2 linked regions of the Homo sapiens genome follow. The protein of the gene in region 1 binds, or shares a complex with, the protein of each later gene. Each region holds a gene or a part of one and is shown in the gene's direction. Other genes may lie near its edges. The genes, in order: IL1A and S100A13.

What was found.
Region 2: the proteins of IL1A (region 1) and S100A13 are in contact, whole or in part, in an NMR structure (PDB 2L5X), measured with the Homo sapiens proteins. Residues at the interface, in NP_000566.3 of Homo sapiens: Asn148 (codon at 7,592), Gln150 (codon at 7,598), Tyr151 (codon at 7,601), Thr194 (codon at 9,114), Ala195 (codon at 9,117), Gln196 (codon at 9,120), Asp197 (codon at 9,123), Leu203 (codon at 9,141), Leu204 (codon at 9,144), Lys205 (codon at 9,147), Glu206 (codon at 11,869), Met207 (codon at 11,872), Gly216 (codon at 11,899), Ser217 (codon at 11,902), Glu218 (codon at 11,905), Thr219 (codon at 11,908), Asn220 (codon at 11,911), His239 (codon at 11,968); in NP_001019381.1 of Homo sapiens: Met1, Arg25, Gln26, Glu27, Gly28, Arg29, Lys30, Asp31, Ser34, Asp68, Ser69, Glu70, Lys72, Phe73.

Annotation. Positions count from the first base shown.
Region 1 is NC_000002.12:112,770,340-112,787,135, reverse strand, and holds IL1A (interleukin-1 alpha precursor), read left to right. Parts: upstream 1-2,642; 5' UTR 2,643-2,693; intron 2,694-2,735; exon of another isoform or gene 2,736-2,821; intron 2,822-3,357; 5' UTR 3,358-3,365; coding exon 3,366-3,412; intron 3,413-4,371; coding exon 4,372-4,420; intron 4,421-5,309; coding exon 5,310-5,532; intron 5,533-7,469; coding exon 7,470-7,640; intron 7,641-9,024; coding exon 9,025-9,149; intron 9,150-11,868; coding exon 11,869-12,069; 3' UTR 12,070-13,211; downstream 13,212-16,796. UniProt on the Homo sapiens protein: Cytokine constitutively present intracellularly in nearly all resting non-hematopoietic cells that plays an important role in inflammation and bridges the innate and adaptive immune systems.
Region 2 is NC_000001.11:153,622,106-153,633,202, reverse strand, and holds the start of S100A13 (protein S100-A13), read left to right. Parts: upstream 1-5,697; 5' UTR 5,698-5,720; exon of another isoform or gene 5,721-6,509; intron 6,510-6,669; 5' UTR 6,670-6,730; coding exon 6,731-6,883; intron 6,884-11,097. Other genes in the region: S100A1 (protein S100-A1), read right to left, coding at 1,362-1,505, 2,541-2,681. UniProt on the Homo sapiens protein: Plays a role in the export of proteins that lack a signal peptide and are secreted by an alternative pathway. Binds two calcium ions per subunit. Binds one copper ion. Binding of one copper ion does not interfere with calcium binding.

The DNA of each region.
Region 1 (16,796 bases):
GATCTTGGGTTGGTCACTTAACCTCTTCAAGGGTCCTCAGCTGTGAAAGAGGATAGTATCAGCTAATTCTTGTAGGTGCAGTGAGGAGGCAGTGAGATAGTGCAGGTAAACTATAAAACAATTGTCACATGAAACGCATCACAGTGATTCTTTGGACCCACAAGCTCCAATCTTATAAAACATATCCAGTCACCCACCAACATAGATCATCTCACCTTGCATATCTGATTTTGTGGATCATGGGGAAAAACTGCTGATTCCTAGCAAAACCCATGGCATAGGATAAGTGCACAATAATTTTTTTTTCCTAAATGATTTAGATGACAGTGACTCATTAAGGGTTTCCTGAGGCCTCCTCAGAGTCGAGAGGTGGGTGCCTGAAGCCACCCAAAGTCCCTGTCACAGGATGGCTCCCAACGCACACACCACAGGCCTGCCCAGTATGTTCCACTATCTACCCAGTAGAGCCCTGCCCAGTACGTTCCACTGTCCCTTCCCTAGAAGAGGTGACTGTTGTTCACAGTCCCAGAAAAGCGGGCTCCCCAAAACAATGCAAGGACCCACCTCTCTCTGAACCTCACCCACCCTAGTTTTCCTTTAAAAATCAATTTACAAGAAGATCATGTGAAGGAAAAGGTTGGGTGATATTCTAACCCAAGTTAGCTGTTTCTCAACCAAGTTCTCTTTGAAAAATTCAACAACCACCTTTGGGGAATTATTTACAACAGAGGAGTGAGGATGGGACCAGGATAGGTATTGCCTATGTTGGTGGAACCAGGGTTTTTTTCCTGGATTACCAAAGAGATGGTATGCATTGCTCCCAGAAGCTAAATATCTTCAGGCTTTCAATGGTGGCCTTCACCTGAAAATGTTATCCCTGTTGAAGCTTTCAAGCCAGTATTTTCATAAGAACTATATTTTCTTTGGTGAACTGAGGCATTATAATGATGACTATACAGGTTCTTGAGTGACTGAAGCCATCATTAGCATTGTCATTATTTTTGTTTAGTTGCATCTCCATAGCAGCTCACATTCACAATGTGCTTTGCAATTGTTCCTTAGCAATAGCCCTCACAAGATTCTCAGGAGGAGAGGGTTAATCAGGATTAACATTTCTGTGTTGCCTAAAGAGGAACCAAGGTAAGCAGAAATGTAGCCAGTTGGCTGGCATCACTGTTGCTTCAGGATTCATCCTTAGACACCCAAGCTTCTACCCTAGTCTGGTGCTACACTTACATTGCTTACATCCAAGTGTGGTTATTTCTGTGGCTCCTGTTATAACTATTATAGCACCAGGTCTATGACCAGGAGAATTAGACTGGCATTAAATCAGAATAAGAGATTTTGCACCTGCAATAGACCTTATGACACCTAACCAACCCCATTATTTACAATTAAACAGGAACAGAGGGAATACTTTATCCAACTCACACAAGCTGCTTTCCTCCCAGATCCATGCTTTTTTGCGTTTATTATTTTTTAGAGATGGGGGCTTCACTATGTTGCCCACACTGGACTAAAACTCTGGGCCTCAAGTGATTGTCCTGCCTCAGCCTCCTGAATAGCTGGGACTACAGGGGCATGCCATCACACCTAGTTCATTTCCTCTATTTAAAATATACATGGCTTAAACTCCAACTGGGAACCCAAAACATTCATTTGCTAAGAGTCTGGTGTTCTACCACCTGAACTAGGCTGGCCACAGGAATTATAAAAGCTGAGAAATTCTTTAATAATAGTAACCAGGCAACACCATTGAAGGCTCATATGTAAAAATCCATGCCTTCCTTTCTCCCAATCTCCATTCCCAAACTTAGCCACTGGCTTCTGGCTGAGGCCTTACGCATACCTCCCGGGGCTTGCACACACCTTCTTCTACAGAAGACACACCTTGGGCATATCCTACAGAAGACCAGGCTTCTCTCTGGTCCTTGGTAGAGGGCTACTTTACTGTAACAGGGCCAGGGTGGAGAGTTCTCTCCTGAAGCTCCATCCCCTCTATAGGAAATGTGTTGACAATATTCAGAAGAGTAAGAGGATCAAGACTTCTTTGTGCTCAAATACCACTGTTCTCTTCTCTACCCTGCCCTAACCAGGAGCTTGTCACCCCAAACTCTGAGGTGATTTATGCCTTAATCAAGCAAACTTCCCTCTTCAGAAAAGATGGCTCATTTTCCCTCAAAAGTTGCCAGGAGCTGCCAAGTATTCTGCCAATTCACCCTGGAGCACAATCAACAAATTCAGCCAGAACACAACTACAGCTACTATTAGAACTATTATTATTAATAAATTCCTCTCCAAATCTAGCCCCTTGACTTCGGATTTCACGATTTCTCCCTTCCTCCTAGAAACTTGATAAGTTTCCCGCGCTTCCCTTTTTCTAAGACTACATGTTTGTCATCTTATAAAGCAAAGGGGTGAATAAATGAACCAAATCAATAACTTCTGGAATATCTGCAAACAACAATAATATCAGCTATGCCATCTTTCACTATTTTAGCCAGTATCGAGTTGAATGAACATAGAAAAATACAAAACTGAATTCTTCCCTGTAAATTCCCCGTTTTGACGACGCACTTGTAGCCACGTAGCCACGCCTACTTAAGACAATTACAAAAGGCGAAGAAGACTGACTCAGGCTTAAGCTGCCAGCCAGAGAGGGAGTCATTTCATTGGCGTTTGAGTCAGCAAAGGTATTGTCCTCACATCTCTGGCTATTAAAGTATTTTCTGTTGTTGTTTTTCTCTTTGGCTGTTTTCTCTCACATTGCCTTCTCTAAAGCTACAGCCTCTCCTTTCTTTTCTTGTCCCTCCCTGGTTTGGTATGTGACCTAGAATTACAGTCAGATTTCAGAAAATGATTCTCTCATTTTGCTGATAAGGACTGATTCGTTATACTGAGGGACAGCAGAACTAGTTTCCTATGAGGGCATGGGTGAATACAACTGAGGCTTCTCATGGGAGGGAATCTCTACTATCCAAAATTATTAGGAGAAAATTGAAAATTTCCAACTCTGTCTCTCTCTTACCTCTGTGTAAGGCAAATACCTTATTCTTGTGGTGTTTTTGTAACCTCTTCAAACTTTCATTGATTGAATGCCTGTTCTGGCAATACATTAGGTTGGGCACATAAGGAATACCAACATAAATAAAACATTCTAAAAGAAGTTTACGATCTAATAAAGGAGACAGGTACATAGCAAACTAATTCAAAGGAGCTAGAAGATGGAGAAAATGCTGAATGTGGACTAAGTCATTCAACAAAGTTTTCAGGAAGCACAAAGAGGAGGGGCTCCCCTCACAGATATCTGGATTAGAGGCTGGCTGAGCTGATGGTGGCTGGTGTTCTCTGTTGCAGAAGTCAAGATGGCCAAAGTTCCAGACATGTTTGAAGACCTGAAGAACTGTTACAGGTAAGGAATAAGATTTATCTCTTGTGATTTAATGAGGGTTTCAAGGCTCACCAGAATCCAGCTAGGCATAACAGTGGCCAGCATGGGGGCAGGCCGGCAGAGGTTGTAGAGATGTGTACTAGTCCTGAAGTCAGAGCAGGTTCAGAGAAGACCCAGAAAAACTAAGCATTCAGCATGTTAAACTGAGATTACATTGGCAGGGAGACCGCCATTTTAGAAAAATTATTTTTGAGGTCTGCTGAGCCCTACATGAATATCAGCATCAACTTAGACACAGCCTCTGTTGAGATCACATGCCCTGATATAAGAATGGGTTTTACTGGTCCATTCTCAGGAAAACTTGATCTCATTCAGGAACAGGAAATGGCTCCACAGCAAGCTGGGCATGTGAACTCACATATGCAGGCAAATCTCACTCAGATGTAGAAGAAAGGTAAATGAACACAAAGATAAAATTACGGAACATATTAAACTAACATGATGTTTCCATTATCTGTAGTAAATACTAACACAAACTAGGCTGTCAAAATTTTGCCTGGATATTTTACTAAGTATAAATTATGAAATCTGTTTTAGTGAATACATGAAAGTAATGTGTAACATATAATCTATTTGGTTAAAATAAAAAGGAAGTGCTTCAAAACCTTTCTTTTCTCTAAAGGAGCTTAACATTCTTCCCTGAACTTCAATTAAAGCTCTTCAATTTGTTAGCCAAGTCCAATTTTTACAGATAAAGCACAGGTAAAGCTCAAAGCCTGTCTTGATGACTACTAATTCCAGATTAGTAAGATATGAATTACTCTACCTATGTGTATGTGTAGAAGTCCTTAAATTTCAAAGATGACAGTAATGGCCATGTGTATGTGTGTGACCCACAACTATCATGGTCATTAAAGTACATTGGCCAGAGACCACACTGAAATAACAACAATTACATTCTCATCATCTTATTTTGACAGTGAAAATGAAGAAGACAGTTCCTCCATTGATCATCTGTCTCTGAATCAGGTAAGCAAATGACTGTAATTCTCATGGGACTGCTATTCTTACACAGTGGTTTCTTCATCCAAAGAGAACAGCAATGACTTGAATCTTCAATACTTTTGTTTTACCCTCACTAGAGGTCCAGAGACCTGTCTTTCATTATAAGTGAGACCAGCTGCCTCTCTAAACTAATAGTTGATGTGCATTGGCTTCTCCCAGAACAGAGCAGAACCATCCCAAATCCCTGAGAACTGGAGTCTCCTGGGGCAGGCTTCATCAGGATGTTAGTTATGCCATCCTGAGAAAGGCCCCGCAGGCCGCTTCACCAGGTGTCTGTCTCCTAACGTGATGTGTTGTGGTTGTCTTCTCTGACACCAGCATCAGAGGTTAGAGAAAGTCTCCAAACATGAAGCTGAGAGAGAGGAAGCAAGCCAGTTGAAAGTGAGAAGTCTACAGCCACTCATCAATCTGTGTTATTGTGTTTGGAGACCACAAATAGACACTATAAGTACTGCCTAGTATGTCTTCAGTACTGGCTTTAAAAGCTGTCCCCAAAGGAGTATTTCTAAAATATTTTGAGCATTGTTAAGCAGATTTTTAACCTCCTGAGAGGGAACTAATTGGAAAGCTACCACTCACTACAATCATTGTTAACCTATTTAGTTACAACATCTCATTTTTGAGCATGCAAATAAATGAAAAAGTCTTCCTAAAAAAATCATCTTTTTATCCTGGAAGGAGGAAGGAAGGTGAGACAAAAGGGAGAGAGGGAGGGAAGCCTAATGAAACACCAGTTACCTAAGACCAGAATGGAGATCCTCCTCACTACCTCTGTTGAATACAGCACCTACTGAAAGAACTTTCATTCCCTGACCATGAACAGCCTCTCAGCTTCTGTTTTCCTTCCTCACAGAAATCCTTCTATCATGTAAGCTATGGCCCACTCCATGAAGGCTGCATGGATCAATCTGTGTCTCTGAGTATCTCTGAAACCTCTAAAACATCCAAGCTTACCTTCAAGGAGAGCATGGTGGTAGTAGCAACCAACGGGAAGGTTCTGAAGAAGAGACGGTTGAGTTTAAGCCAATCCATCACTGATGATGACCTGGAGGCCATCGCCAATGACTCAGAGGAAGGTAAGGGGTCAAGCACAATAATATCTTTCTTTTACAGTTTTAAGCAAGTAGGGACAGTAGAATTTAGGGGAAAATTAAACGTGGAGTCAGAATAACAAGAAGACAACCAAGCATTAGTCTGGTAACTATACAGAGGAAAATTAATTTTTATCCTTCTCCAGGAGGGAGAAATGAGCAGTGGCCTGAATCGAGAATACTTGCTCACAGCCATTATTTCTTAGCCATATTGTAAAGGTCGTGTGACTTTTAGCCTTTCAGGAGAAAGCAGTAATAAGACCACTTACGAGCTATGTTCCTCTCATACTAACTATGCCTCCTTGGTCATGTTACATAATCTTTTCGTGATTCAGTTTCCTCTACTGTAAAATGGAGATAATCAGAATCCCCCACTCATTGGACTGCTGTAAAGATTAAGAGTCTCAGGCTTTACAGACTGAGCTAGCTGGGCCCTCCTGACTGTTATAAAGATTAAATGAGTCAACATCCCCTAACTTCTGGACTAGAATAATGTCTGGTACAAAGTAAGCACCCAATAAATGTTAGCTATTACTATCATTATTATTATTATTTTATTTTATTTTTTTGAGATGGAGTCTGGCTCTGTCACCCAGGCTGGAGTGCAGTGGCGCAATCTCGGCTCACTGCAAGCTCTGCCTCCTGGGTTCATGCCATTCTCCTGCCTCAGCCTCCTGAGTAGCTGGGAATACAGGCACCCGCCACTGTTCCCGGCTAATTTTTTGTATTTTTAGTAGAGACGGAGTTTCACCGTGGTCTCCATCTCCTCGTGATCCACCCACCTTGGCCTCCCAAAGTGCCGGGATTACAGGCGTGAGCCACCGCGCCCGGCCTATGATTATTATTATTATTACTACTACTACTACCTATATGAATACTACCAGCAATACTAATTTATTAATGACTGGATTATGTCTAAACCTCACAAGAATCCTACCTTCTCATTTTACATAAAAGGAAACTAAGCTCATTGAGATAGGTAAACTGCCCAATGGCATACATCTGTAAGTGGGAGAGCCTCAAATCTAATTCAGTTCTACCTGAGTAAAAAAATCATGGTTTCTCCTCCATCCCTTTACTGTACAAGCCTCCACATGAACTATAAACCCAATATTCCTGTTTTTAAGATAATACCTAAGCAATAACGCATGTTCACCTAGAAGGTTTTAAAATGTAACAAAATATAAGAAAATAAAAATCACTCATATCGTCAGTGAGAGTTTACTACTGCCAGCACTATGGTATGTTTCCTTAAAATCTTTGCTATACACATACCTACATGTGAACAAATATGTCTAACATCAAGACCACACTATTTACAACTTTATATCCAGCTTTTCTTACTTAGCAATGTATTGAGGACATTTTAGAGTGCCCGTTTTTCACCATTATAAGCAATGCAACAATGAACATCTGTATAAATAAATATTCATTTCTCTCACCCTTTATTTCCTTAGAATATATTCCTAGAAGTAGAATTTCCCAGAGCCATGAGGATTTGTGACGCTATTGATATGTGCCACTTTGCACTCTCTGTGACATATATAATTATTTTTAATGCATTCTTTTTTTCTCAGAGTGCATTCATTTGAAAACATAGACGGGAAATACTGGTAGTCTTCCTTGTCAGTTAGAAACACCCAAACAATGAAAAATGAAAAAGTTGCACAAATAGTCTCTAAAAACAATGAAACTATTGCCTGAGGAATTGAAGTTTAAAAAGAAGCACATAAGCAACAACAAGGATAATCCTAGAAAACCAGTTCTGCTGACTGGGTGATTTCACTTCTCTTTGCTTCCTCATCTGGATTGGAATATTCCTAATATCCCCTCCAGAACTATTTTCCCTGTTTGTACTAGACTGTGTATATCATCTGTGTTTGTACATAGACATTAATCTGCACTTGTGATCATGGTTTTAGAAATCATCAAGCCTAGGTCAGCACCTTTTAGCTTCCTGAGCAATGTGAAATACAACTTTATGAGGATCATCAAATACGAATTCATCCTGAATGACGCCCTCAATCAAAGTATAATTCGAGCCAATGATCAGTACCTCACGGCTGCTGCATTACATAATCTGGATGAAGCAGGTACATTAAAATGGCACCAGACATTTCTGTCATCCTCCCCTCCTTTCATTTACTTATTTATTTATTTCAATCTTTCTGCTTGCAAAAAACATACCTCTTCAGAGTTCTGGGTTGCACAATTCTTCCAGAATAGCTTGAAGCACAGCACCCCCATAAAAATCCCAAGCCAGGGCAGAAGGTTCAACTAAATCTGGAAGTTCCACAAGAGAGAAGTTTCCTATCTTTGAGAGTAAAGGGTTGTGCACAAAGCTAGCTGATGTACTACCTCTTTGGTTCTTTCAGACATTCTTACCCTCAATTTTAAAACTGAGGAAACTGTCAGACATATTAAATGATTTACTCAGATTTACCCAGAAGCCAATGAAGAACAATCACTCTCCTTTAAAAAGTCTGTTGATCAAACTCACAAGTAACACCAAACTAGGAAGATCTTTATTATCTCTGATAACATATTTGTGAGGCAAAACCTCCAATAAGCTACAAATATGGCTTAAAGGATGAAGTTTAGTGTCCAAAAACTTTTATCACACACATCCAATTTTCATGGCGGACATGTTTTAGTTTCAACAGTATACATATTTTCAAAGGTCCAGAGAGGCAATTTTGCAATAAACAAGCAAGACTTTTTCTGATTGGATGCACTTCAGCTAACATGCTTTCAACTCTACATTTACAAATTATTTTGTGTTCTATTTTTCTACTTAATATTATTTCTGCAATTTTCCCAATATTGACATCGTGTATGTATTTGCCATTTTTAATATCACTAGACAATTCAATCAGGTTGCTACGTTGGTCCCTTGGGTTTACTCTAAATAGCTTGATTGCAAATATCTTTGTATATATTATTGTTTTTTCTCCTATCTTGTAATTTCTTTGAGCACATCCCAAAGAGGAATGCCTAGATCAATGGGCACAAATAATTTGACAGCTCTTATTAAACATTATTCTGTAAGTAAAAACTGAACTACTTTTCAGTATCACTAGCAACATATGAGTGTATCAGCTTCCTAAACCCCTCCATGTTAGGTCATTATGAACTTATGATCTAACAAATTACAGGGTCTTATCCCACTAATGAAATTATAAGAGATTCAACACTTATTCAGCCCCGAAGGATTCATTCAACGTAGAAAATTCTAAGAACATTAACCAAGTATTTACCTGCCTAGTGAGTGTGGAAGACATTGTGAAGGACACAAAGATGTATAGAATTCCATTCCTGACTTCCAGGTATTTACACCATAGGTGGGGACCTAACTACACACACACACACACACACACACACACACACACACACACCATGCACACACAATCTACATCAACACTTGATTTTATACAAATACAATGAATTTACTTTCTTTTTGGTTCTTCTCTTCACCAGTGAAATTTGACATGGGTGCTTATAAGTCATCAAAGGATGATGCTAAAATTACCGTGATTCTAAGAATCTCAAAAACTCAATTGTATGTGACTGCCCAAGATGAAGACCAACCAGTGCTGCTGAAGGTCAGTTGTCCTTTGTCTCCAACTTACCTTCATTTACATCTCATATGTTTGTAAATAAGCCCAATAGGCAGACACCTCTAACAAGGTGACACTGTCCTCTTTCCTTCCTACCACAGCCCCCACCTGCCCACCCCACTCCCATTGATTCCAGAGGCGTGCCTAGGCAGGCTCTATGAGAAAATATAACAGAGAGTAAGAGGAAAATTACCTTCTTTCTTTTTCCTTTCCCTGCCTGACCTTATTCACCTCCCATCCCAGAGCATCCATTTATTCCATTGATCTTTACTGACATCTATTATCTGACCTACACAATACTAGACATTAGGACAATGTGGCCTGCCTCCAAGAAACTCAAATAAGCCAACTGAGATCAGAGAGGATTAATCACCTGCCAATGGGCACAAAGCAACAAGCTGGGAGCCAAGTCCCAAAATGGGGCCTGCTGCTTCCAGTTCCCCTCTCTCTGCATTGATGTCAGCATTATCCTTCGTCCCAGTCCTGTCTCCACTACCACTTTCCCCCTCAAACACACACACACACAACAGCCTTAGATGTTTTCTCCACTGATAAGTAGGTGACTCAATTTGTAAGTATATAATCCAAGACCTTCTATTCCCAAGTAGAATTTATGTGCCTGCCTGTGCTTTTCTACCTGGATCAAGTGATGTCTACAGAGTAGGGCAGTAGCTTCATTCATGAACTCATTCAACAAGCATTATTCACTGAGAGCCTTCTATTTTTCAGGCATAGTGCCAACAGCAGTGTGGACAGTGGTGCATCAAAGCCTCTAGTCTCATAGAACTTAGTCTTCTGGAGGATATGGAAAACAGACAACCCAAACAACCAACAAAAGAGCAAGATGCTGCAAAAAAAAAAAAAAATGAATAGGGTGCTAAGATAGAGAAAAGTGGGAGAGTGCTATTTAGACAAAGTGGTAAAAACAAAGCCCCTTGTGAGATGAGAGCTGCCGACAGGAGGGGGCGGGTCATGGTTGTGGGTTTTTGGGTAGGACATTCAGAGGAGGGGGCGGGTCGTGGTTGTGGGTTTTTGGGTAGGACATTCAGAGGAGGGGGCGGGTCGTGGTTGTGGGTTTTTGGGTAGGACATTCAGAGGAGGGGGCGGGTCGTGGTTGTGGGTTTTTGGGTAGGACATTCAGAGGAGGGGGCGGGTCGTGGTTGTGGGTTTTTGGGTAGGACATTCAGAGGAGGGGGCGGGTCGTGGTTGTGGGTTTTTGGGTAGGACATTCAGAGGAGGGGGCGGGTCGTGGTTGTGGGTTTTTGGGTAGGACATTCAGAGGAGGGGGCGGGTCGTGGTTGTGGGTTTTTGGGTAGGACATTCAGAGGAGGGGGCGGGTCGTGGTTGTGGGTTTTTGGGTAGGACATTCAGAGGAGGGGGCGGGTCGTGGTTGTGGGTTTTTGGGTAGGACATTCAGAGGAGGGGGCGGGTCGTGGTTGTGGGTTTTTGGGTAGGACATTCAGAGGAGGGGGCGGGTCGTGGTTGTGGGTTTTTGGGTAGGACATTCAGAGGAGGGGGCGGGTCATGGTTGTGGGTTTTTGGGACATTCAGAGGAGTCTGAATGCACCCAGGCCTACAACTTCAAGATGGTAAAGGACAGCTCCAAGGATCAGAAGAAGCATTCTTGGAACTGGGGCATTTTGAGAAGGAGGAAAAATATGCAGAGACTAGTGCTTGCAGAGCTTGCATTTGGATTTCATTTGAGGTACAATGAAAACCCATTAATGGGTTTCACACAGTGCAATGGCCTGACCTCACTTATATTTCCTAAAATAGAAAACAGATCAGAAGGAAGGCAATAGAGAAGCAGAAAGTCCAATGAGGAGGTTTCACAGCAGTCATGGGGGTGGGGTAAGGAAAAGAAGTGGAAAGAAACAGACAGAATTGGGTTATATTTTGGAGATAGAACCAACAGAAGGAAGAGGAGAAACAACATTTACTGAGAAGGGAAAAAGTAGGAGAGGAATAGGTTTGGGAAATAAATCCTGCTGACATTGGAAACCCCAAGGAAGCCTCAAAAGTATATTTACTTGCTTTAGATTTAAAAGAATAGGAAAGAAGCATCTCAACTTGGAATTTGAAATCTATTTTTCCATAAAAGTATTGTTAAATTCTACTCATACTCACAAGAAAAGTACATTCTAAAGAGTATATTGAAAGAGTTTACTGATATACTTAGGAATTTTGTGTGTATGTGTGTGTGTGTATGTGTGTGCGTGTGTTTAACCTTCAATTGTTGACTTAAATACTGAGATAAATGTCATCTAAATGCTAAATTGATTTCCAAAGGTATGATTTGTTCACTTGGAGATCAAAATGTTTAGGGGGCTTAGAATCACTGTAGTGCTCAGATTTGATGCAAAATGTCTTAGGCCTATGTTGAAGGCAGGACAGAAACAATGTTTCCCTCCTACCTGCCTGGATACAGTAAGATACTAGTGTCACTGACAATCTTCATAACTAATTTAGATCTCTCTCCAATCAACTAAGGAAATCAACTCTTATTAATAGACTGGGCCACACATCTACTAGGCATGTAATAAATGCTTGCTGAATGAACAAATGAATGAAGAGCCTATAGCATCATGTTACAGCCATAGTCCTAAAGTGCTGTTTCTCATGAAGGCCAAATGCTAAGGGATTGAGCTTCAGTCCTTTTTCTACCATCTTGTTCTCTAACAGAATTCTCTTCTTTTCTTCATAGGAGATGCCTGAGATACCCAAAACCATCACAGGTAGTGAGACCAACCTCCTCTTCTTCTGGGAAACTCACGGCACTAAGAACTATTTCACATCAGTTGCCCATCCAAACTTGTTTATTGCCACAAAGCAAGACTACTGGGTGTGCTTGGCAGGGGGGCCACCCTCTATCACTGACTTTCAGATACTGGAAAACCAGGCGTAGGTCTGGAGTCTCACTTGTCTCACTTGTGCAGTGTTGACAGTTCATATGTACCATGTACATGAAGAAGCTAAATCCTTTACTGTTAGTCATTTGCTGAGCATGTACTGAGCCTTGTAATTCTAAATGAATGTTTACACTCTTTGTAAGAGTGGAACCAACACTAACATATAATGTTGTTATTTAAAGAACACCCTATATTTTGCATAGTACCAATCATTTTAATTATTATTCTTCATAACAATTTTAGGAGGACCAGAGCTACTGACTATGGCTACCAAAAAGACTCTACCCATATTACAGATGGGCAAATTAAGGCATAAGAAAACTAAGAAATATGCACAATAGCAGTTGAAACAAGAAGCCACAGACCTAGGATTTCATGATTTCATTTCAACTGTTTGCCTTCTACTTTTAAGTTGCTGATGAACTCTTAATCAAATAGCATAAGTTTCTGGGACCTCAGTTTTATCATTTTCAAAATGGAGGGAATAATACCTAAGCCTTCCTGCCGCAACAGTTTTTTATGCTAATCAGGGAGGTCATTTTGGTAAAATACTTCTTGAAGCCGAGCCTCAAGATGAAGGCAAAGCACGAAATGTTATTTTTTAATTATTATTTATATATGTATTTATAAATATATTTAAGATAATTATAATATACTATATTTATGGGAACCCCTTCATCCTCTGAGTGTGACCAGGCATCCTCCACAATAGCAGACAGTGTTTTCTGGGATAAGTAAGTTTGATTTCATTAATACAGGGCATTTTGGTCCAAGTTGTGCTTATCCCATAGCCAGGAAACTCTGCATTCTAGTACTTGGGAGACCTGTAATCATATAATAAATGTACATTAATTACCTTGAGCCAGTAATTGGTCCGATCTTTGACTCTTTTGCCATTAAACTTACCTGGGCATTCTTGTTTCAATTCCACCTGCAATCAAGTCCTACAAGCTAAAATTAGATGAACTCAACTTTGACAACCATGAGACCACTGTTATCAAAACTTTCTTTTCTGGAATGTAATCAATGTTTCTTCTAGGTTCTAAAAATTGTGATCAGACCATAATGTTACATTATTATCAACAATAGTGATTGATAGAGTGTTATCAGTCATAACTAAATAAAGCTTGCAACAAAATTCTCTGACACATAGTTATTCATTGCCTTAATCATTATTTTACTGCATGGTAATTAGGGACAAATGGTAAATGTTTACATAAATAATTGTATTTAGTGTTACTTTATAAAATCAAACCAAGATTTTATATTTTTTTCTCCTCTTTGTTAGCTGCCAGTATGCATAAATGGCATTAAGAATGATAATATTTCCGGGTTCACTTAAAGCTCACATTACACATACACAAAACATGTGTTCCCATCTTTATACAAACTCACACATACAGAGCTACATTAAAAACAACTAATAGGCCAGGCACGGTGGCTCAGACCTGTAATCCCAGCACTTTGGGAGGCCAAGGTGGGAAGATCACTTGAGGTCAGGAGTTCAAGACCAGCCTAGGCAACATAGTGAGATCTCATCTCTACAAAAAAAAATGAAAAATTAAAAAATGAGCTGGACATGGTAGTACACACCTGTAGTCCCAGCTACTCGGGAGGCTTGAGGTGGGAGGATCACTTGAGCCTGGGAGATGGAGGCTGCAGTGAGCCATAATCACACCATTGCACCCCAACCTGGGCAACAGAGTGAGACCCAGTCTCAAAAGATAAATTTTTAAAAATGTTAAAAAATATATAAAAGAGAATTTTAAAAGAACAACTAATAGATCAAAGCATGGATGCAAGATATATTTAGTTGGAAAATCAAGGTTAAAATCAAGGGATCTTGGAATTAGGTGTGGTAGATTTGGGTAAGGAGTAGTCTAAGATGACCCTGTTTCTTGGTACTGGAGACTGGATGAGTGGCAGCGTCTTAACCATATTTTTGGTAGAAATATGGAGGTCTTCTCCATTCCAGGATGAATGATGAGTAAAATTTTAGGCATGTAATTTGAGCTACTAGAAGGACACTCAATTGCAGATGTACAATGGGGAGATGATAACCTATCTGGAACTCAGAAAAATAACTGTATATAGATATGAAAGACATCAGTAGGTATGTAGTAGATAAAATCCTAAAAGTGATGTCAAAGGGAGAAGAGAAGTATATGGTGAACACTGTTGTTTGTCCATGCAATTGCCATCTCTTCTTCTTCCTTACTGACAGAACCCTGATTTCACTGAGAAGTCAACATGCCCTTCCCCAATTGATGAATCCAATTGGTTTAAGATTATGTTCATTCTATTCTTACATGACTAAGTCACGTTGACTTAATCCTATCAAATGAGATGTCGATCTGGAAACAACTTCTGGAAAAGATTTTCTACCTTGATAAAATAAAGAGCCATATAGATGGTCCTTTATCTTCCTTCTTCCTTGAATGAGATATGTTCTATGAGGAAGTGAAGCTTAGAACTGTGGTCAGCAACTTGCAACGACTGGGAAGTCAGAGCCACACAATGAAGAATGCAGAGTGGAAGGAGAAAAAGAGCCAGCATCTCTGACAACATTGTTACACCGAGAACCTACCTCCAGATTTTAAGAAAACAAGAAATGCTACTGTTATTAAGCCATTTCACTGGGTTTGCTATGACTTGCAGTCAAATCTAGCTTAACTGATACAGAGCACCACAGAGAACTGGTCTCTCATTTGTCTCATCCTGTTCTTTCTAGCAGCCACGACTTTCCTAGGGTTTCCTTAGCCCAAGTCTGGCTAGAGCAAGACTAAGTAAGACTTGATTCCTTAATGTCCTTTTGTTTTAAGAAATATTAAAGAATTATTTTTATATTAATATATTTTAAGAAATAAGGAAATACAAAACACTGAGCAAGCAACACAAATTCAAGAAATCTTAAAAAGTATAATAGCTGCTCAGTCTCTGATTAACAGTGAAATATGGAATCATTGTAGAAATGGCCTTGGAGCGTTATTCTCCCAGGCCAGCTATCCTTATGGTCTGCCCCACCTCCCTCATTGCCTAAACAGTAAGAGAGTCACCATGGTGAGACTCAACAGTCTTAGCACAGAACTTGTTACAGTCTATTTCTTTTCTTACAGTCCTATATATCAAGTTCCAAATCAATGAGAGTAAAGCCAAATCCCTGCCTTTAAACCCAAGGGACAGAAGCAAAAAGCCAAAAGATATTTCCCTAACCTTCCTCCCACTGAGTAGACTCCTCTGACATTTAAAAACCCCTACGCTTGAAATTTGAGGGGTGATGGAATTGTTGAGATGGTAATAATTATTGTGGTGGATATAAAATATGCTCGTGTATCTATATCTCTGAATGACTGAATGATTTATAAGTTTAATGGTTATATACATTTCTGACTTTTAAAAATGAATGTATGAGTATATGACAATATAATAATTTACAAAAAAAATTTATTATCTATAGCACCTCATTGAACTATACATAAAATAGATTAAATTATACCTCAGTAACAAAGGATTTTTTTTAATTTACAAGGAAAAAACTCTTTATTCCATTTATCGCGTTGTGTATCCAGAGTGGTCTTTTTTTTTTTTTTTTTTGTACCCTCTCTCAACCCTAGGCATGAGATGTTCATTTATCCTAAAATGCTCTATAGGGTAATTTACCTTTCTTGTGGATACATTGTTTGCATTTCCCTGTCATTGGCTCTCACTGGCCAAGAACACCTTTGCTCCTTCTTCTCTAAAACTTATTCCTCACCAATTTTTCTTTTTATCAGAGTGGCTGACAAAGGGTGTTATGCAACCTTATGAGCTCTGCAGGGTAAACTGAGGTCTGGCTCAAAAGTATACATCCCTGGGCCTCACCTCTGGAGATTCAGTCAGTTTGGGTAGACCTTGAGCATCTTAATTTTTTTAAGCTCCAAAAGTAACTCTCATGTTTATCACTGGTTAAGAACCACTGCATGAAGAGAGTCCCAGATTAAGGATGGTTTTATTATAGTGTTAATAATGGCTTCCTTTTGGGCAAGTCAATCCAGGGTTAGAAAAGATGAGAACACACAACTTCCACCTATCCAGTAGAGGCCTTCTCACAGCCACAGGGACACCGGCAGGCCTCATTTGGAAATAAGGTACTCAACAGCACAAGTACCCCCATTTTATATACTCACTTATACTTGCGTAGAAGCTGAGGGGCCTGCCAAGCAGGTGCTTGCCTTTGGTGTCACTCTTCCAAAAGGTCTGGAGTGCTTTGCCCAATTGAGAGAGGCCTATGGAATAAGAAAAACATGAGTGGATGGTCCCTGTCTTATCTTCTCAACTGTCCACACTCTAAAAAACGACTTTGGCTCCTAGCATGACAAGAGCCTTGATTTTCAGAGGAACACTCCCTTCTCATCTCCACCAAGAAGTAGAGCTAATTTCCTTCCACACAGCTCCTATTCACTATTTCGTAGATGGTGAAGTCATTTCTTTGTCATGTAAGGAGAAATGCTGTTACTATTTTTTAAAACAGAAAGGAGAGGGTTTATGGAGATTACAGACAGGTATTCTTGATACGAATGTATTGCATCAATTTAGAAGATTTTTCAACAGATGTTTTGTGCATATGTAGAATAAAATGCTGCAATCTCAAGGTCTCAGGCTGGGATCACTAAGAACAAGTCATGCTGCAGACCTCATTACCACTTTTGATGGGATTACCTGAGTGGCATTGGCAGGTATATCT
Region 2 (11,097 bases), on another chromosome or scaffold:
TCAATAAGGGATTTTTCTCTCTTTCTTTTTTTTTTCTTTTTGCAGATGGAGTCTCGCTGTGTCACCCAGACTGGAGTGCAGTGGTACCATCTCGGCTCACTGCAACCTCCGCCTCCCAGGTTCAAGCGATTCTCCTGCCTCAGCCTCCTGAGTAGCTGGAATTACAGGCGCGTACCACCATGCCCCGCTAATTTTTGTATTTTTAGTAGAGATGGGGTTTCACCAGGCTGGTCTCCAACTCCTGACCTCAAGTGATCTGCCCGCCTCTGTCTCCCAAAGTGCTGGGACTACAGTCGTGAGCCACTGTGCCCGGCCTCAATAAGGGATTTTTCTAATGACTATGTGCACAATACAGTGTACATATGTTTGAGGAATGAGAGAATGACACATCTGCAACCCTTCCTCTGCTCCACTGGCACGTCAAGACCCTTTCATTTTCCTTCCTGGCACTTGGGCGTGTGCGTGTGTGTATGTGTTTGTGTGTGTCTGTGTGTAAGTAATGGCCCAGCATCCTTACCCATGTGAGGGTAAGGATCGTGGTTATTTTGCTTAATGCTGGAGCCTCAGTTCCTACAGTGTTTACACATAGTACCACTTAAGTAAATGTTCGTTGATTGAAAGAAGATTCTTTCGGCCTAGCGCGGTGGCTCATGCCTGTAATCTCAGCACTTTGGGAGGCCGAGGCGGGGGGATCACGAGGTCAGGAGATCGAGACCATCCTGGCCAACATGGTGAAACCCCGTCTGTACTAAAAATACAAAAAATTAGCCGGGCGTGGTGGCAGGCGCCTGTAGTCCCAGCTGCTCGGGAGGCTGAGGCAGGTGAATCGCTTGAACCTGGGAGGCGGAGGTTGCAGTGAGCCGAGATCGTGCCACTGCCCTCCAGCCTGGGTGACAGAGCCAGACTGTGTCTCCAAAAAAAAAAAAAAAAAAAAAAGATTATTTCTTCCTCTGGTTTTATAGTTGAGAAGCTGATGTCTCCTCGACTTCCAACTGGAACCTTGAACCCCCACATTTCTGGACCTTGAGCATTCCTCAAGTAGGAAGATGTAATGCACCTTGACCTCTTTCTAAATAAGACACTTCCCCAAATAAGGGGAGTTGAGAGTGAACAGTCTTCACGTCTCCACCCACTTCCAGATCCCAGAGGAGACAGACATCGGATGGCTGGTGAGAGAGAAGCCTTTAATGAAAGATGAGTTGCAGGCTTGGACCGCTACTCTTGCGCCCTTGGTGGGGGTGGGGGTGGGGTGGGCAAGGGTGGGGTTATGGAGAGGGATAAGTGGGGTGAGGTGGAAGCAGGGGGAAGAGGCAGGTCTGGGAGGGTGGAGAGGAAGGGCGCTGCCCAATGTGGCTGTCTGCTCAACTGTTCTCCCAGAAGAAATTGTTACAGGCCACTGTGAGAGCAGCCACAAGCACCACATACTCCTGGAAGTCCACCTCCCCGTCTCCATTCTCGTCTAGCTCCTTCATCACCTTGTCCACAGCATCCACATCCTTCTGGGCCTGTGGTGGGAGGAGAGGAAGAGGGAGGTGTATAGGGAAGGGTACAGCACTGAGTCAGAGGCAAGGGGGTGGTTGAGGAGCAGGAGGCAAAGATGAGCGAGAGGAACTGCATTGAATTATGGGACTCTTCTAGGCCTCCTCAAAGGTCTTGAGGGCTTCTGTTGCCTACAGCATAAGCTCTTTCACCTGGCAGAATGAATAATAATGACACCAGTTACCGTATGTTCAGTGCCTATAATAAAGCAAGCACTACACTAGGAGCTTTACAAGCACTGTCTAATTTAATTCTAATACAAATAATGTGAGGTATGTTTCATTATTTCCATTCTAGAGAAGAAACAAATTGGTAATCGGTGGTTAAATAAATATGCCCAAAGTCCCACAGCTAGAAAGTAGCAGGGCTGGAATTTGAACCCAGTCCAATAAAACCTCAAAACCGGTGCACTTTCTACCGTATCCTGAGGCTTCTTTACTTTGGGGCCCTGGTTAGCCTTAGCAGCCTAGTTTTCTACATCCTTCATGCCAGTTGAATGAAACTACTGACATGCTCCACATTCTTCTTTCTCCCATGCTTTTGTTCATTCAGTTACCTCCTCCTAAAATGTCTGCATTTACCCAGATAATCTTCCAATGGAAATCCATGGTTCAAGTGCCACCTCTTCAGGAAAGCCATCTGACTTCAATCAGGTTAATAATCTCTCATAACCCTTTCTGGTACATCTGTTAAGGCTCTGTGTATTTCCTGGAGTTCATGGTTTACTTTTAAGTGTCAATCTTTCCCTTCTAAGTCTGTGTGTCTTATTATTGATGAATCTACACAGGGCCTAACACTTAACAGGTGATCAATAAACCAGGGCATTTTGACTTGACCCAGGAGGAGTAGGGGAGCCTGGAAAAACCCAGGAGAGAAGCCTGGGAAAGGAAAGAAAGAGGCTAGGCTGAGCTGGAGGTGGGGTGGGGAGATAGCAAGGGGGTGTCCACCCCATTCCCCCAACCTTCACCCACTCCACTCCCACTCCACCACTCTATGCTCACATCCAGGAAGCCAGAGAGCTCCGTCTGCAGCAGCTCTTTCAGCTCCTTCTTGCTCAGCTTGTACTTGTCCCCCTCTTTGCCCGAGTGGGCGTGGAACACGTTGATGAGGGTCTCCATCGCCGTCTCCAGCTCAGAGCCCATTGCAGCAGTGCACCTACCCACCCCCATCATGGAAGTGAGCTGAGGACCAGGCCCGGAGTACCTGGGGTCTAGGTGAGGGGAACCCTCAGGACTGGCCCTGGCTGACAGCTCAAATAGCTGTGGGATTAGAGCCCTACTGCAATTGATCTTTCCCTGAGATTTTACAATGTGAGGGAAACCCCAAGAGACCTAAGTGCAGGCCTGTTCTCTGTGTCCCTCAGTCTGTACCCCAGCCAGAGGGAATCAGGGTTGGGGCATGGAGAGAGAGCAGTTGGAGCTGGGCTGGCTCCAGAGGCCTGTGGTAGATGTCTGCAGTGGCTGCCCAGGCAGGGATTGAGGAGGGTGGGGCAGGCAGGGGTGGTCACAGGACTGGGCCATGCTTCCTCTGGCTCTATTTTTACCCTGGACCTTGCCTGTCTAGCATAGCCAAGCTCTGCTGTTGAGGGTGGTGGGCTGGGGTGTCCACTACAGCCTTCCTTCTGCTGCCCACCCCTAGCAAGGAGTCAGTCTGGTACCCTCGGTCAGCCTGGTAGAGGGGATGGCAGCCCCAGTGGGTGGCGTACGCCTTCTGGGGGAGGGAGGTCTCACTGACTCTGAGTTTCCTGTCAGCAGCTGGGGGCCCCTTTTGGTCCTTCAACTCTGTTCTCTCCTGAACATGTCATTTTGGCTTCTTTGGGATATGCTCCCATTGCCTCTGCAAAATTATCCCTTCCATCTGGTGGGTGGCAGAAGGGGAGAGAGGAATGTCTGAGCCTTTTCCTTGGAGCCAGAGTTCCCAGGGAGTGGGAGAGGAGACCTGCAGGCGTTGTCCCTGCAACTGCTCACTCCTGGTTGATTCGGGGATAGTGGGAGCAAGGGGAATGGGGCTGCTGTGTGTTGGGGGAGAGAAAGGGCTGAAAGCATGCGGTCCTTTGAGTTCAAGGGGCTGGGAGAGAGTAGGAGAAGAAAGGAGAAAGGAGTGGTCTGTTGAGAGAGAAGACTGCCAAGCCGGGGGGCCTCTTTCCCTTGGCCCTGGGACAGTCTGGCCTTCCACAACCCCAGAGGGGGCAGCTCAGGTGTCTCGGATCAGATGTCCCCATCCTTCCCCAGGCCTAGGGGGCTGGACAATGGCCCCTGATCGAATGACATCCCAGTTCTTCAATGGGGCCCTTGTGAGTGTCATCTGAACTCCGGACCTGAGAAGCAGTTGTCACAGAGACATGGGGGAGATGGAACCCAAGCTGTGGCTGATGAGGGGATAAGGGGTGCTTGAGGGAGGGGTGCTGGTAGCTTGATTACCTGCTCCATGCCAGAGGGGCAGCTGGAGGTCACCTGGAGCCCTAAAGCAGCCTGGGATTTTACGTGGTGGCAGTTCTGAGAGGACTTGGGGGCAGGGGAGATGGGGAAACAAAGAGGTAAGAATGGGGGGAAAGAGGAGTCAAGAGGTCTGGGCCAAAAATGGGAGGAGGAGAAAGGGGAGGTCCTGTGGAGGTCGAGTTGGGAAGGGGCACAGCACCCTACATCTCTGCTTCCCCATATCATGGGAGCTTTGCCCTGCCACCCCCAGACTCCCCCGGGACCTGAGCTCTTGGCAAGGCAGGGTGGGGGTGGCAGAGACTAAGGCTGGCAGGAGAGGTGGGGGCAGAAACAGCTGTTGTATCTGCTCTCTTCTTACCCCACAGGAGGCGAGGCAGGGGAGGGCTGGGACCCTTCCCAACACCTGGGAGACAGAGGGGGCCTTGGCAGGGACTTGAGGGCTCCCTGTGGGAGGGCCAGGCGGTCAGGAAGCTCATGGTGGGTTCCCCACTGGCTTCCTCCTTTGCTGAGCTGCCAGCTCTCTCTCCGACCTTCAGTTCATTTGTCTCTCATCACCACCTTCCAAACCCTGTCTCCCCCAAATCCCAAACTGCCCTCACCCTGACTGACTCCTCCCAGATCCTCAGTGCTCCACAGTGCTATGGTCCCCAGCCTCTTGGAGCCCTTCTGAAGACCCCTCTCCCTGAAGCTGGCAGGCCAGGGACTAGCCCAGTGGGGCAGGGTACTCACGGTTGGCCTGGGCCTGAGGTGGGAGCAGGTTCTGGACAGATGGCCAAGGTTGCAAATGTGGCTGCTGGAGCTGTGTGTGGAGACCTGTCTTCAACAGTCCCTCCCCCGCTGACCCCCCCACCGACTCCACCCCTTCACAGACGAACACCCTGTGGGGCAAGGGGCCAGGAGCAGACAGAGGCGCCCTCTGTCTCCTGGGCTGGAACAGGCGGCCCTTGTCTCTTTCCCAGCCTTGCTTGCCCCGTTCCTTTCTCTCCAGGCAGCAGTGGATGGTGCAGGGGAAAGAGGTGGGAAGGAGGTCCTGGGAGGGACACTGGATGTCTTACCCCAAGCTGGGCCTTGCAGTACCTGTGGCTGGCTGTGCTGGTTGAGCCCGGTAAGGGGGGAATTCTGCTGAGGGGGTCTTAGTCTGTGGCTCCTCCATGGGGCCTCACTGAGAGGACCCTCAGTGAGAAACTTAGTCTTGGGAGTCTGAGAACCCACAGAGGGATTTCAATCCAGGACTCTTCTCTGGGGGTCTCAACCTGGATCCCCCTCTGTGTGTGGGGCCTCAGCCTGGGGTTCTCTGAGGGATCTTGGTCTGTAGCATCCTTTGTGGGATCTCATTCCAAGGGGCCTCTGTGTGTGTCTCAGATTGGGCCTCTCAGTGTTGAGCTCCCTTGATTGGTTGCCTCCCTCTTCCCCCCTCAGCATACACACTCCTGATTAGACATGGGTATGGTGGCAGCAGCCCCCAGTATTGAGAGGACTAGGACCCTGGGACCCCTGCCGAACGAGATCTGTCCAGGCAGCTCCTCTCCCTGACCAAGTGGGGGCGCTCGTGTGGCTGGCAGGGAGCCCGGGTCCAGACCTGAGGGCTCAGGGCAAGCGGCCTGATTGGGCTGTCTCTGGTCTTCAGAATCGACCACGGAAATTTGACACCTCCGGGCTTGGAAGCAGCTCTCTCCTCCTTCCCCGCTGCTTATAAACCTCAGCCCTGAGGCTCCAGCTCACTCTACCCCATCTCCTTGCCGGGTGAGTCTCATGGCTGACCCTGGAGGGAGGCTGGAGATCATTTTTTCTTCCTGGGCTCCCAGGTCCCTCCCCCAGAGCCAGCTCAGACAGGAATTCAGGAAGGAGCTTTGGATGATCGAGCAACAGCGCGTGCAGGAGTGTGTGACGGGGTGGACAGAAAAGAGAATGCCTCTTCCAGCCCCACCCGCCGCACCCCAGGGGGTTGTGAGTGCCTGTACTAAACCCGTCCTGGAGCAGGGAGTCAGAGACGCCCCGTTCCAGGACCCTTGTCACCGGGAGACAGGAGCGGGGAGGATCTGTGGGGTCCTGGGTTCAGCACTCTGCCCTGCTGCCGCTGAGGAGAGGTAAGGGTGGAGCGGGGCAGAGAAAATGGGTCTGTTCAGACGGAGCCAGCTCTGACCACAGGGGACATTTGCCAGACCCTGTGCTTCTCTGCTGGGAGGAGCGGTTAGAGTGTGTGTGGGCGGATGCGAGTGGCCGGAGACCAGGGCCCAACATAAACAAGCTTTGGAGACAAACAACCTTATGACCTGTGAGTCTGGGTGAGACAAGAAGGGATTCTTGAGACAGACACGCCACAGAGGGGCCACCAGACTTGAAGGACTCCAAGAAGGACCTTCAACTGAAGACCTCCTCTCAAGTAGAGGGGTCTCCAGATCGAGGGATCACCACAGAGGGGTCCCTAAGCCACAGACATTTAAAAAGGATCCCGGATTGTGAGACCTACAGAAGAGGGGGTTTCTGGAGCTGAATCTCCTGCCCCCACCAAAACTGAGATGCCGTTGCCTGGTCTGCTGCCCCAAGCTCAACCCCTGTCCTCTCCCTCTTTCCCCATATGCCCCCTCCAGGCTGAGACTGATGTGATAACACCAAGGCAGGGACCTTCTGAACCATTCCTGCATCTTGGGGCTCCCTGACTCTCCCTCTCTGCTCCTTCTCTCTTCCACAGGTCAGCCCTGACAAAGGTCAGCTAGCCCCTTGAGGACATCAGCTTTGGCCTCAGGGTCCTAATGGCAGCAGAACCACTGACAGAGCTAGAGGAGTCCATTGAGACCGTGGTCACCACCTTCTTCACCTTTGCAAGGCAGGAGGGCCGGAAGGATAGCCTCAGCGTCAACGAGTTCAAAGAGCTGGTTACCCAGCAGTTGCCCCATCTGCTCAAGGTAGGCAGAAGTCTGGGACTGAGATTTTGTGAGATGATGATTATGGGACACTGTGTTTAGGACGTGATGGTGCCGAGTACGGTGAGGTGACCACAAGAAAGGGTGTGGGTGGCTGCATGTGTCAATGGTTGCAGGTTTTCTTTTGTTTTTTCGAGACAAAGTCTCACTCTGTTGCCCAGGCCGGAGTGCAGTGGTGTGATCTTGGCTCACTGCAACCTCCATCTCCGGGGTTCAAGTGATTCTCCTGCCTCAGCCTCCTGAGTAGCTGGGATTACAGGTGTGTGCCACCACGCCGAGCCTATTTCTGTATTTTTAGTAGAGACAGGGTTTCACCAGGTTGGCCAGGCTGGTCTCGAACTCCTGACCTCAGGTGATCCACCCGCCTCGGCCTCCCAAAGTGCTGTGGTTACAGGCGCAAGCCACTGCGCCTGACCCGGTTGTGAGTTTTCTTGCCTGGTGTGTACATGTGTGTGTTTGTGTGTCCATGCATATAATTAGGTAAGCAAAGATACTATGTGCCAGTGGGAGTATGGTCTTGTGTCAGAAGATGCTGTTGGGTTCTTGTGTATGCTCTGTGCCTTTCTGGTCTAATTTCCCCAAGACAGGACTGGACCCAGAGCTGGCTTCCAGGAGATTCACAGACTGTCAGAGCTGGAAGGAGGCCAAGAGAAAACACAGTCCGCATTCCTCACTTCACATATATGGAAACTGAGGCCTAGCAGTGGAAAGGGGCTTATCAAAAATGAAAACACAGCCAAATTCATGGAGTCATAGACCTCAGTGTAGGGGGTCTGTGGGTGCATCTGTGAAGACTCCCTACCCGCTATGGGCATCCCCTTACTAGGGTGTAAGAGTCATTCCTTCTCTCGCACTCACAGGCTGGAGTCAGGTCTTAAATTTCATCGACTCTGGCCTCGAAGAGGCCTGGTCATTCTGGCTGTTGACAGTTTGTTTTACATCCTTTCTGAAAATCCACAGGCACGTTGAAGTGTGTGAATATGGACTCCTTGAACACAGTGAGTCTCTGAAACTCATGGTCTTTCATCTGCAAAATCCCCTACAACTTCCAACTTCTCAGACTTTTTTTTGAGACAGGGTTTCTCACTCTGTTGCCCAGGCCACTGTGCGATCACAGCTCATTGCATCCTTGACCTTCCGGGCTCAGGCAATCCTCCTGCCCCAGCCTCACAAGTAGCTGGGACCACAGGCGCATGCCACACTGCCTGGCTAATTTTTTCTTTTTTTGTGACAGAGTCTCACTCTGTCACCGAGGCTGGAGTGCAATGGTGCGATCTTGGCTCACTGCAACCTCTGCCTCCTGGGTTCAAGTGGTTCTCTTACCTCAGCCTCATGAGTAGCTGGGATTACAGGCAACCGCCACCATGCCTGGATAATTTTTGTATTTTTAGTAGAGACGGGGTTTCACTATGTTGGCCAGGCTGGTTTCGAACTCCTGATCTCAGGTGATCCACCTGCCTCGGCCTCTCAAAGTGCTGGAATTACAGGCGTGAGCCACCGCGCCTGGCCTAATTTTTAAGTTACTTGTAGAGATGTGGTCTCTCTGTGTTTCCCAAGCTGGTCTCAAACTCTAGGCCTCAAGTGATCCTCCTGCATTGGCCTTCCAAAGTGTTGGGATTACAGTCATGAGCCACTGTGCCCAGCCAGACGTTTCCTTTTTCATCTTTTTTACTGGAAACTTCAGGTTCTCTCCTGAAGGGACAGCATTCCTTATATCCTTGTCAAGCAGTGATTGTGGTTTTTTTTTTTTTTTTCCTAAATTCAACTTCCTCTGGGCCTGGAAATGGAGGAAGTGACCTCTCTGCTTTCCATTATCTCTAGATTTTAGTTTCTTCTTCTTTCTAAGACTTCCCAGCGCCTTGGAAGATCATCTGCCACCTGCCATTCTTCTTATTGCGCTCCTTACAGCTCTTCAGCTCCTGGCTCACTGTTTTCTTCTCATCACTGCTTCTGTTGTTATTCTCAGTGGCTTCAGCATCCGCACAGACAATTCATCCAACATCTGGGCCTTTCAATTTTCTCAACTCCTCATTTCCAAAAAGATTTGTCTTCTTACATCTCAGCATCCCACTCCTCTGTTCATGCTTTAGACTGTGTCATTAACAAAATAACGCACAACTTCCAAAATCTTGATTTCAAGTTTCCCTTTATCTGCTGACCTCCTCCTGTCATTCCAGTTCTGTTCCCCTCTCTAGCTTCTCCACTTCAGCACTTCCCTGACTCCTCAGGTACCTTCAGTCTCTCGACCCTCTCACTTTTGCATCTTCCATCAACATCCCTCGGGTCCTCATTGCCCTTCCTCCTCACCTCAGGTTCTAAGGCTTCTAATTGTAATCACTGCCTTAACCCCGTTGATTCTGTCTCTCTCTGTTCTCAACCCAGTTAATCCACCATTTCACCTATAGTAACTTGCCAGTTAAATCCACTGTTCTGCACCTGCACTTGGATAGCTGAATCTGGCTGGAGAAAAATGCATAGCTTTGTTGACTTGTCTCACTTTAAATCTATAACCACAGACCCCAAAAGGGACCCTTGGCAATACCTGGCGGTTCTGTGTTTCCCTGGTTGATTCATTTACCAGTTCTTTCAGATAATTATTTCACAATTTGTCTTCTCTCCTCAAAGCTCAGTACATCTTTCCACGTTCTCCCTTTTCCTGAGAAGTTTACTCACTGAGAAGTTCAGGACTTCGAGACCAGCCTGGCCAACATAGTGAAACCCCATCTCTACTAAAAATATATTTAAAAAATTAGCTGGGCATGGTTGTGTGCGCCTGTAATCCCAGCTACTTGGGAGGCTGAAGCAGGAAAATTGCTTGAACCCAGGAGGCAGAGGTTGCAGGGAGCTGAGATTGCACCACTGCACTCCAGCCTGGGCAACAGAGGGAGACTGTCTCAAAGGAAAAAAAAAAAAAAGGAAACGAAAATAGGAGCAATCAGGAAACTTGTATGTGCTCCCTCCCCGAAATCAGCAGTCTTCTGTTATGCAAATGATACGTCACTGCCCCTAAGGCCAACCCTTCACTGGTGCCCTGGATCCCATCCCCTCTCACCCACTGCACTCCAGTCTGGGTGACCGACAGAGCGAGACTCCGTCTCAAAAAAAAAGACTTTCCTCTTGAAATTACTCCTCTCTTTCTTGTGTCCTCAAATTTTCCTTCTCCACTGTATCGTTCTTACCAGCTTACAACTGATACCTCTTTTTTTTTTTTTGAGACAGAGTCTCACTTTGTTGCCCAGGCTAGAGTGCAATGGCGTGATTACAGTTCACTGCAGCCTCTACCTCCTACGCTCAAGTGATCCTTCCACCTCAGCCTTCTGAGTAGCTGGGACTACAGGCATGTGCCACCATGTCTGGCTAATTTTTTAATTTTTTTGTAGAGACAGGGCCTCTGTACGTGTGCGTGCATGTAATTAGGTAAGCAAAGATACTGTGTGCCAGTGGGAGTATGGGCTTGTATCAGATGATGCTGTTGGGTTCTTGTGTATGTTCTGTGCTTTTCTGGTCTAATTTCCCCAAGACAGGACTGGACCCAGAGCTGGCTTCCAGGAGATTCACAGACCATCACAGCTGGAAGGAGGCCAAGAGAAAACACAGTCCCCATTCCTCACTTCACATATATGGAAACTGAGGCCTAATTTTTAAATGTTTTTGTAGAGGCAGGGCCTCATTATATTGCCCATGCTGGTCTTGAACTCCTAGGCTTAAGTGATCCTCCTGCCCTGGCCTCCCAAAGTGTTGGGATTACAGGCATGAGCCACTATGCCCAGCCCAATCCTTTATTGATGGAAATTTTTCTTATGTCCATTTCTTCCTTCTTGCAAATATCTGTTTGTATACCTACATACTGGTGGAAAAATAACAACATAAGGTAAATGTTTGGCAGTAGAAATATTAGGTTAAGTGGCATGTTCATTTTTAATTTGTTTTTGAGAAAGGATCTTGCTCTTTCACCCAGGCTGGAGTGCAGTGGCATGATCTCGGGTCACTGCAACCTCTGCCTCCCAGGTTCAAGCGATTTTCCTGGCTCAGCCTCCCTGAGTAGCTGGGACTACAGGCTTGTGCCACCACGCCTGGCTAATTTTTGTATTTTTAGTAGAGACGAGGTTTCGCCATGTTGGCCAGGCTGGTCTCGCACTCCTGACTTCAGATGATCTGCCTGCCTCGGCCTCCCAAAGTGCTGGGATTACAGGGGT